Regions from separate parts of the Homo sapiens genome. Here region 1 is linked to region 2. The links come from fine-mapping of genetic effects on gene expression. Tissue or cell type: macrophages. Region 2 holds a variant in brackets; the other region holds the start of a gene. All regions are shown on one strand. Distances are between the middles of the regions.

Region 1 (4,107 bases), 33 kb before region 2:
AGCCACCGCGCCCGGCAATTTGGGTAACCCTTTCATGATTTCTAGGATGGCTTCATCCATAGTTATCCAAACATCAAGCCTTTAATGTTGGCTTCTCCCACTCTCTTACACCCACCTGTTTTCTCCTTTCCATTCCCCCTACTCCCAGCTTAGCTCAGGCCTGCATCATTTTTACCCTGGCCACTGCCATTGTCTGGTCACTGGCCTCCTTCCTACCTCCAGCTAGATTGATGCCATCTGAGACCTTGCTTAGAATCCTTCAGTGGCTCCCCATTTCCTTCCATCAACAAGTATTGATCAATAAGTATTTATGAAGGGCCTGCTCTTTCCCAATCTCTGGCTAGGCACACTGGAGAGATACATCCCTGCCCTTGTGGAGCTTACAGTCCAGGGCGGAGACAGACAAATGAATGGTTACCATATTATTTACAAATGGGGTTTTTCCAGAGCCCACAGATGGGGCACCTGGCCCAGATATGGCCATCAAGAAAGGCTTCAGGGAAAGTTGATGTCTAGGCTGAGACCTAAAAGATGAATAAAAGGAGTTAGCCAGGCAAAGCAGTGGGCAAGGATGAGCCCTTAGAAGGCCTTCAGAGCCTTGCTGACCATCACCTTTGAACACATGCTGGCCACCCACACTGTGGGCATAGACTTATTAGTAGGTCCATGATTGTCACTCCTTTAATCTGCCCTACACCCACAGGTCCTTCCAAGACCCATTTCAGATGCCACCTCCCCCAAGAAGTTCCAGTCCCCATATCCCAGTGTCTTTGGTGGCCCTGTGCCCATTTGCCTGCCCTATCTTAGCCCTCTCCACTTCACTGCAATGGTATATTCACCCATTCCTTTACAAAATCAGAATCCAGAAAGGGCAGGACACCGTCTCATTTGTCTTCGTGTCCCCAGCACCCCGGTAAGCCAGGCATAGGTAGACTTTTTTTTTTTTTTTTTTTTGAGACAGAGTCTTACTCTGTCACCCAGGCTAGAGTGCAGTGGTGCGATCTCCACTCACTGCAACCTCTGCCTCCTGGGTTCAAGCAATTCTTCTGCCTCAGCCTCTTGAGTAGTTGGAATTACAGGCATGCACCACCACACCCGGCTAATTTTTGTATTTTTAGTAGAGAGGGGTTTTCACCATGTTGGCCAGGCTGGTCTCGAACTCCCAACCTCAGGTGATCTGCTGCCTTGGCCTCCCAAAGTGCTGGGATTACAGGCGTGAGCCACTGCGCCCGGTCATATGTAGACATTTGATAAATACGTTGAATGAAAGGAAACCAACTCTCCATTCTCCCCCACCCTCCCATATAATGGGACAGGAGAAAATAAGATTTATTTGAGAGGCTGCAAATGACAGGATTAGGGAGTGGTTGGAGATATCAGGAATCCGTCTAGCTACAGGTGAGATCAGGTTTTGTTTTTTTTGAGACGGAGTCTCGCCCTGTCGCCCAGGCAGGAGTGAGTGCAATGGCGCGATCTCGGCCCACTGCAACCTCCCACTCCCGGGTTCAAGCGATTCTCCTGCCTCAGCCTCCCGAGTAGGGGGTTACAGGCGCGCCACCACGCCCGGCTAATTTTTTGTATTTTTAGTAGAGACGGGGTTTCACCGTGTTAGCCAGGATTGTCTCCATCTCCTGACCTCGTGATCCGCCCCCGTCGGCCTCCCAAAGTGCTGGGATTACAGGCGTGAGCCACCGCGCCCGGCAGAGATCAGGTTCTTAAGGGAAGTCCGGAGAAATGGGGTTTTTAAAAAACCCGAGTCCAGGCTATCTGTTTGGAGGGGTTGGGAGGCTTGGAGCTGGACCAATAACTTCTTAGGTCTTGCTTTAAGGAGTGAAGATTCTCTGTAGCGACCCTCATACCTGGGCAGTGGGAGCGGGCAGAATCCTTCTTTCTTCTCTTCTCTACACCCCCTCACTCCACCCCCACCCTTCCCCGCCGCCCGTAAACCTTAGCTTTCCCCTTTCCAACAGAGGTTTCCAGCTGTTGATGCCTGGATGGACCCGGCTGCAGGGAGGAGGAGGAAACTCTCTGTCCCTCCCTTCTTCTGCAAGTCCCCACCCTCCCTCCCTCCTCCCCCTGCGCGCTCTCGGTCTCCCTCCCTCTTTCTCCTCTAGGCTGTCCAGTCGCCTCGCAGCAGCGAGCCGCGAGCGCCCTTCTCCAGTCCCGGCTTGGAACTGAACTGTGTGAGCACGGGTCCTGGAACCCGGGCCCAGAACCGGCGAGCCCAGGTCTGAGCCCAGAGCTCAGCGGTCAGCCTCGTAGGCCCTGACTCGGAATCGAGCCGAGGCGCTGAGGTTGGAGCCGGAGAGCGTGAGAGCCGAAGAGCAGGGAGGGCGGGCCGGCTGCGCGTCCGACGAGTCGCAGAGCAGGACCGCGGAAGGCAGGGAGACGGCCGCAAGCCCAGGGCAGAGGGCAGAGGGCAGAGAGCGGCCTGGCTCGGCGGAGAGGGCGCCGCCCGGCCGGAACCAAGCTCGCCGCCCGGGACGGCGGGCCCCGTGGGGCGCGGACCCAGGGTGGCCGTGGGTCCGCAGCGACTCCCCGGCCGACGGCGGGGGGCGTGCCCCCTCCCAGCCCAGCCTCCCCAACCCGGCCCGCCCGCCGCGTCGCGGGGGCATGTGAGCGGGAAGCCTAGGCTGCCAGCCGCGAGGACCGCACGGAGGAGGAGCAGGAGCGCGGAGCCGCGAGCCCCGAGCCCCGAGCCCGGCGCCTGGCTGAGTAGTAAGTGCACCCCTCCCCGCCATGATCGCGCCGTCGCGCCCATTTCCCCAGCTCTCTGAAGTTTGACACTTGCGCCCCTACGTTTCTGGGCACCCACCGGCTCTCTTCCCTGCGAGTTTCCACCCTGTGCAAAGTTTTTCGAGGAGAGACGGACCCTCACCTACCCCCAACAACGCTGGGCAGTGGCGGCTCCTCCCTGGCCGACTTGGGTCCTTGTGGAGAGGGATGGCAGCCTCTAAGGCAGTGCGTGGCTGTGTGTGTGTTTGTGTGTGTGTGTGTGTGTGTGTGTACGCGCGCGCGCGCGCGCGTTCACCACGCGGGTCGAGCTTAGGGTGCACCCCCAACCCGCTCCTCGCCGACCGCAGAGGACTAGGTCTTTCTCATCAGCCCGACTATGCGCCTAGTTTAAGGATTTCTCAGCGGGAAGCCGAAGCGACCTGCGCGCGTCCTGCGTGGGGCTCAGGTGCCTGCGACGAGGCGCAGAGCTCCTCCACCATGGTTGCGTGGGGTGCTGGGGGACAGACGCGCTCCCCTTGCCACGGTTTCAGGGTCGTTCCCCAGCGGACCAGACCAGCGCGGCATCCTGTTTGTTTTCTGCTCCGGCTGCTCCTGTCCCACCCCCACCCCCACCGCAGGCTGCTTCTTGCTACCCCCACCTCCCGCCCTGGGATATCGTAGGTGAGCCTTTTCATCCCGATTCCGCTGCAAACGCTGATCGCGCCTAGGGGTAGGGAGATGCGGAGCGGGTAGTCGTTCAGTTCCCAGCGGCTCGCCATTGTTTTCCCACCCCGCGCGTTCCGTACGTAAACACACACGCACACACAAGGTTGTGTGTGTGCGCCGGCTCTGGCTGCTTCCCGTCCCCAGGCGCGCAGGGATCGCCCGCGGGATTCGCTCAGCTGCCCGCATGGGTCTTCAGGCTGGAGGCGCTCCAGGACTTAACTGGAGCTGGAGAGGACAAGAGACGTGGGGGTTGCCGGACAGTACCGGGCGGGGCGGTGAGCCGGGCCTGGGCGGGAAGTGAATTTTGAACTTCAGCCCTGGACCTTTCCGGGAGGACCCCGAGCGCTGGAGCGGCGGCTCCCGCCCTGGAGGGCCCGCGGCAGCTGCAAAGACTCCGCTGGCGCTCTTGGCAGCCGCCTCGGTGACAGAGGCTTGGAGGAAGCCGAAGAGTTTTCCTGGGAAGTTTGCTTTGACTCTCTGGGAATTTCCGGGCAGGACGCCTCGGCGCTGGCGCTGGCGCTGGCGCTGGTGAAGGGGTCTGGCCAAAGACGGCCAGAGACGATGCTGCTGGCTCTTGACCACTAGGCTGTACTTGGCTCTCAGCAGTCCAAGTAGGTGGGTCTCTACCTCCCGGAGTTCATGCCTTCCAAACCAGTATCCCCCAAA
Region 2 (4,256 bases):
TCACCTGTCCAGGACACAGGCTTGGCCTTGCCATTGGGAAACAAGGATGAGGCCTACCCCTGCCTTCTAGCACTGTTGGGGTGCAGGAGAACCTGGAGACAGGCTTGGGTTCTAGAGGCAGGAAGGCCTCCAGAGAAGGGCCTCCTAGAGACACTGTTGACCTCTTCTCGGTTTGGGACCTTCTGGAGGCACACATCACACTGGGAGCCTCAATGGCGCTTTCAAGCAGTCCCATCTGTCTCTTTCTCGACCCACTCACTGGGTTGGGAGAAGACTCAGGTGCCTCTGAGGCCTGAGGACCAGGTGGGAACATCACAGCTACAGTCTCTCCCTGGCCACTGTTTTCCTTTGTGCCCTTGGGCCAGGGTCAGCTGAGTCCCGGCAGCCACAGAAGCTCAGGCTGGACTGTGATTCTGTACCTGAGGTGCTGTGGGGAAGTGCCTCTTCTCCCATGCTTGGGAGTTGACCCAGCCTCTGTCTGATGTTGGCCACTCTACCAGGTGAATGCCACCCTGACCAGCCTGGAAACAGCCGAGGGAGTGTTGGCTGTGGCCCCCCTGAGCTGGGCTAGACCAGACCGGCCGTGCCCTGGATCTGATACCCCCCAGGGCTCACAGAGGCTGGAAAGGGTGAGAGGGACTCGCAGGAAAGCTTTGTCCCAAGCCTGCAGCCAGTCCAGCTCCCAGCTCTGAGTAAACATTAGAGATAGGATCGGGTGTAGCCAGGAAGGGTGGCAGGGTGTGGTCTGTGAGAAGAATGGCAGGATGTGGCACCGGGGCACTGTTCTGGGCACCCACGCCTTGGCCTATTGTTTAGGGCAGCCTGAGGTTCTCAGCTCTCTGGGGGCTTTCAGAGGAAGTGGCATTCCCCTGGGACTCAAGCCCTGCCCCACCCCTGCTGCATGGATCTCTTTCCCTGGTGATGCCCCTTGGCACCACCCACTCAGAGCAAGCTTGGGAGTGGGAGCCAGCAGTGGAGGGGGATTAGTGTGTGCCCAGCGGGGAAGTGTAGCCATTGGCCCTCTCAGAGGGTCTGCCTGTCTGTTCAGGCTTCCTGTACCCCAGGGTCTGAGTCACCCGTCATGCTACGATGACTGGAATTTATCTCTATCTTTATCTTCATCTAGATATTTTTTGTAGGGTGGGGGAAGGCTGTCGTTGTGGAGGGAGGAAGGACTGACAGTAAAAACTCCTTTGATTCCAATCCAACAGGGTCAGTTGTTGACTGGTTAGAAGAGGAAGTGGCTGGTGATTTGTTTTGGGCAGAAAGGGGCTAGGTTTGTGTGCGCCTGTGGGTTGGTGGGGTTCAGAGGGGCCGTGACAGGGCTGGTTGTGGGGAGGAGAGAGGAAGAGGATCGGCACCTGCAGCGGGCTTTGTCATATAAGCGCCATGCTTTGAGCCACTGTCCCTCCATGGAGGCGGGTGCCTCTCTATACCTTGTCTCAGGTGCTGGATTTGGGGGCCTCGGGGCCTGGTAGGCACAAGCTGAGACTCAAGGCTCTGCATGTCAAGGGCGAAGATGGCTGGAGCCCTCTCCTTAGAGGTCTTCACTTCTTAAGGATGCTCACTTGGGTGAGATAAGACCACAGAGGAAGAAGAATGGAAGAGGGATTGTGAGGTGGGTTCCTGAGAAGGAAGGGAGGGCAGAGCAGAGATGCCGCTTAGCGCCCCAGCTGGCTGAAGGCCTCTGACTCTGTATAATCTCTTTTTTTTTTGAGACAGAGTCTCCCTCAGTCACCCAGGCTGGAGTGCAGCAGTGCAATCTTGGCTCACTGCAACCTCCGCCTCCTGGGTTTGAGCGATTCTCCTGCCTCAGCCTCCTGAGTAGCTGGGATTACAGGTATGCACCACCATGCCTGGCTAATTTTTGTATTTTTAGTGGAGATGGGGTTTTACCATGTTGGCCAGGCTGGTCTTGAACCCCTGACCTCAGGTGATCAACCCGCCTCAGCCTCCCAAAGTGCTGGGATTACAGATATGAGTCCGGCCATTCTATACAGTCTTGAAGCAGTGCTGCCCCAAAAGCTGCGTGAACTCAACATCTCCTGACCTCAGTTTCTCTGTTTATAAAATGTGTTGAGGTTGGGCAAGAGAGGAAACTGGGCACGCAGGAGCACTTCCATCCAAGCGAGGGGCTGACGGGCTACCCTGTGGACTTGTGGCCTCTGACCAGTACCAAGGCATCAGACTAGGGTGGAAACTGAGGGAGCCCAGTAACTCCTGTATCCTGTGGACCCAGCGTTCTTTGGCTTCTGGGCATTTTGGGACAGTGGAGTTTGAGGTTACTGACCTTAAAACCTCCTGCGGAGCCACATGGAAAATGACTGAAGCAAGGAGCATGCTGTGTAACAAAGGAGTAAAGGAACTTGAGGGATTATTTTAGTTTCTGGAAAGTCTAAAGGGAGACTTAAGGGAGGACTCCAACGGGGTCTTTAAATCCAAAAAGTATGGAAAGTGTTTCTTATC[C/T]GACCCAAGGTAAAAAGAAAAGGAAATGGAATCGCTTTGCTGCTGGGGGTATTTAGGTAACTCATAGGAAGAGCTTAGACCCAAGGAAGAGGCAGCAGAGGATAATTGGGTGTGGGAGAAAAACCTGAGAGAGCAGGAGCTGTCTAATAGTCCTAACAGTATCCATCACCTGTTAAGCATCCAGACCTGCTTTGTGCTGTGCTGCTGAACTCTGTCACTCTCTTGTCATTCTAAGAATATTTATCGAGCACTTACTGTGTTTCAGGCACTGTGCTAGGCTCTGGAGCTACAGTGATGAGCAGAAACAGGTATATTTTTGGCTACTGGGTGACTCCAAAATAAATTTTTTTTTTTTTTTTTTGAGAAGGAGTTTTCGCTGTTGTTGCCCAGGCTGGAGTGCAGAGGCGTGATCTCAACTGACTGCAACTTCCACTTCCCAGGTTCAAGCAATTCTCCTGCCTCAGCCTCCCAAGTAGCTGGGATTACACACCTGACTAATTTTGTGTTTTTACTGGAGTCAGGGTTTCACCATGTTGGTCAAGCTGGTCTCAAACTCCTGACCTCAGGCGATCTGCCCACCTTGGCTTCCCAAAGTGCTGGGATTACAGCCGTGAGCCATCGCGCCCAGCGACTCCAAAATAAATTAAGCGTGTAAAGGTATCATTACCAATTGTGATAAATACTTTTAAGGTCAAGTTCAAAGTGCCATGAGAATGTAAAATAGGCACTCTGATAGGGTCTGGTGTTGTTAACAGGAGATTCACCTCTTGATGTTGAGTTTCTTATTCCTATTTTACTGAGGAGGAAATGGGCTCAGAGAAGTTAAGTTACTTGCCCAAGGTTGCACAGCAATGATTGGTCAGAGTTGGGATTCAAATGTACCCAAGTCTGTCTGACCCTAGAGGCTTTTCTCTCAACCACTTGACTCTCAGAGCATCCTGGACTGCGCACAACTTACAGAATAGATATTCACCCTGTATTATCTGATCTTCATGGACACCAGTGAGACATGGGTTATTGTACCCATTGTATGGATGAGGAGACAGGCTAAGGGAGGTTAATTAATTTGACTAGGTTCATACAAGTCAGCCTGTGGCAGGGCAGGAATTTAAACCCAGGTTGTTGGATTCAAACCCTGCGGGTCTTCCAAGTTGTCCCCTGACTCCCTCCAGGACCCTTGTTTTATAGACACAGCTTGCAGGGGTGAAGCAAACTGTGCAGACCCCCAGCTGCAGAGTGACAGAGCAGTGACCACATAATGACCCCTCTCTTTCCATCTCACTGCCTTTCCTCCCTTATCTAGTTGATCATGGGACCGTCGCTCCCCTCCCTGGGATGGTTAGGGTCTGGAGCCTGGTACTGATGCTCTTCACAGAGACACCTGCGTCTCTCTGGGCCATGGCAGGCTGGGGCTTGGTTCCCTCAAGACCAGACAGGGCAGGGAAAGCAGCTGCTCTTCTCAAGCAGGCCTGTGCTTGGGGAGGGGGAGAGGGAGGTAAAAGAGGTACCCAGGGACCCTCTCCCCCAAAGGTGAGACCCAGAGTTGCTCTCCATTGGGGGCGGGGTGGCATTGTGCCTGGGCTGTTGCCTTTTCATGGACAAGTGGGCCCAGAGGATACCAACTAAGGGCCAGTGCCCAGCACCTGCCGTTGAGCCAGACACCTGTGAGGATGGAAGGGCCCTTGTCTGGGCAGGGTTATCTGGTGGGCACCCAGCCCTAGTGAACAGACTGACACCTCTAAGCTGGCTTGGCTGGTCACCAGGAGCCATTGTCTTTGTGCTGGAGGCCA

Which allele goes with the higher level. Alleles are on the strand shown, and positions count from the first base shown. SD is a standard deviation of normalised expression in the study named.
For the expression in macrophages of the gene that starts at base 2,122 in region 1, C is the high allele of the variant in region 2 and T is the other (moderate effect, 0.42 SD a copy in Nedelec 2016).

Evidence for each region. PIP is the estimated chance that this variant, and not a neighbour inherited with it, causes the effect. A credible set is the group of variants that fine-mapping cannot tell apart.
Region 1: it holds the start of SOX13, and the variant in region 2 is the best candidate, but not a certain one, in a credible set for the expression of SOX13 in macrophages (Nedelec 2016, PIP 0.83).

What each region holds. Positions count from the first base shown.
Region 1 is chr1:204,070,994-204,075,100 of GRCh38, forward strand. SOX13 (SRY-box transcription factor 13) reads left to right here and starts at 2,122. Exons shown (of 14, transcript NM_005686.3): 1 at 2,122-2,718. RefSeq lists an enhancer at 2,801-3,493.
Region 2 is chr1:204,103,709-204,107,964 of GRCh38, forward strand. The region is part of intron 1 of SOX13 (SRY-box transcription factor 13); the gene reads left to right. Among named protein-coding and RNA genes, the nearest start is that of SOX13, 33 kb to the left of the region's middle. RefSeq lists an enhancer at 3,498-4,256. The variant C/T (reference allele first, on the strand shown) is at 2,467.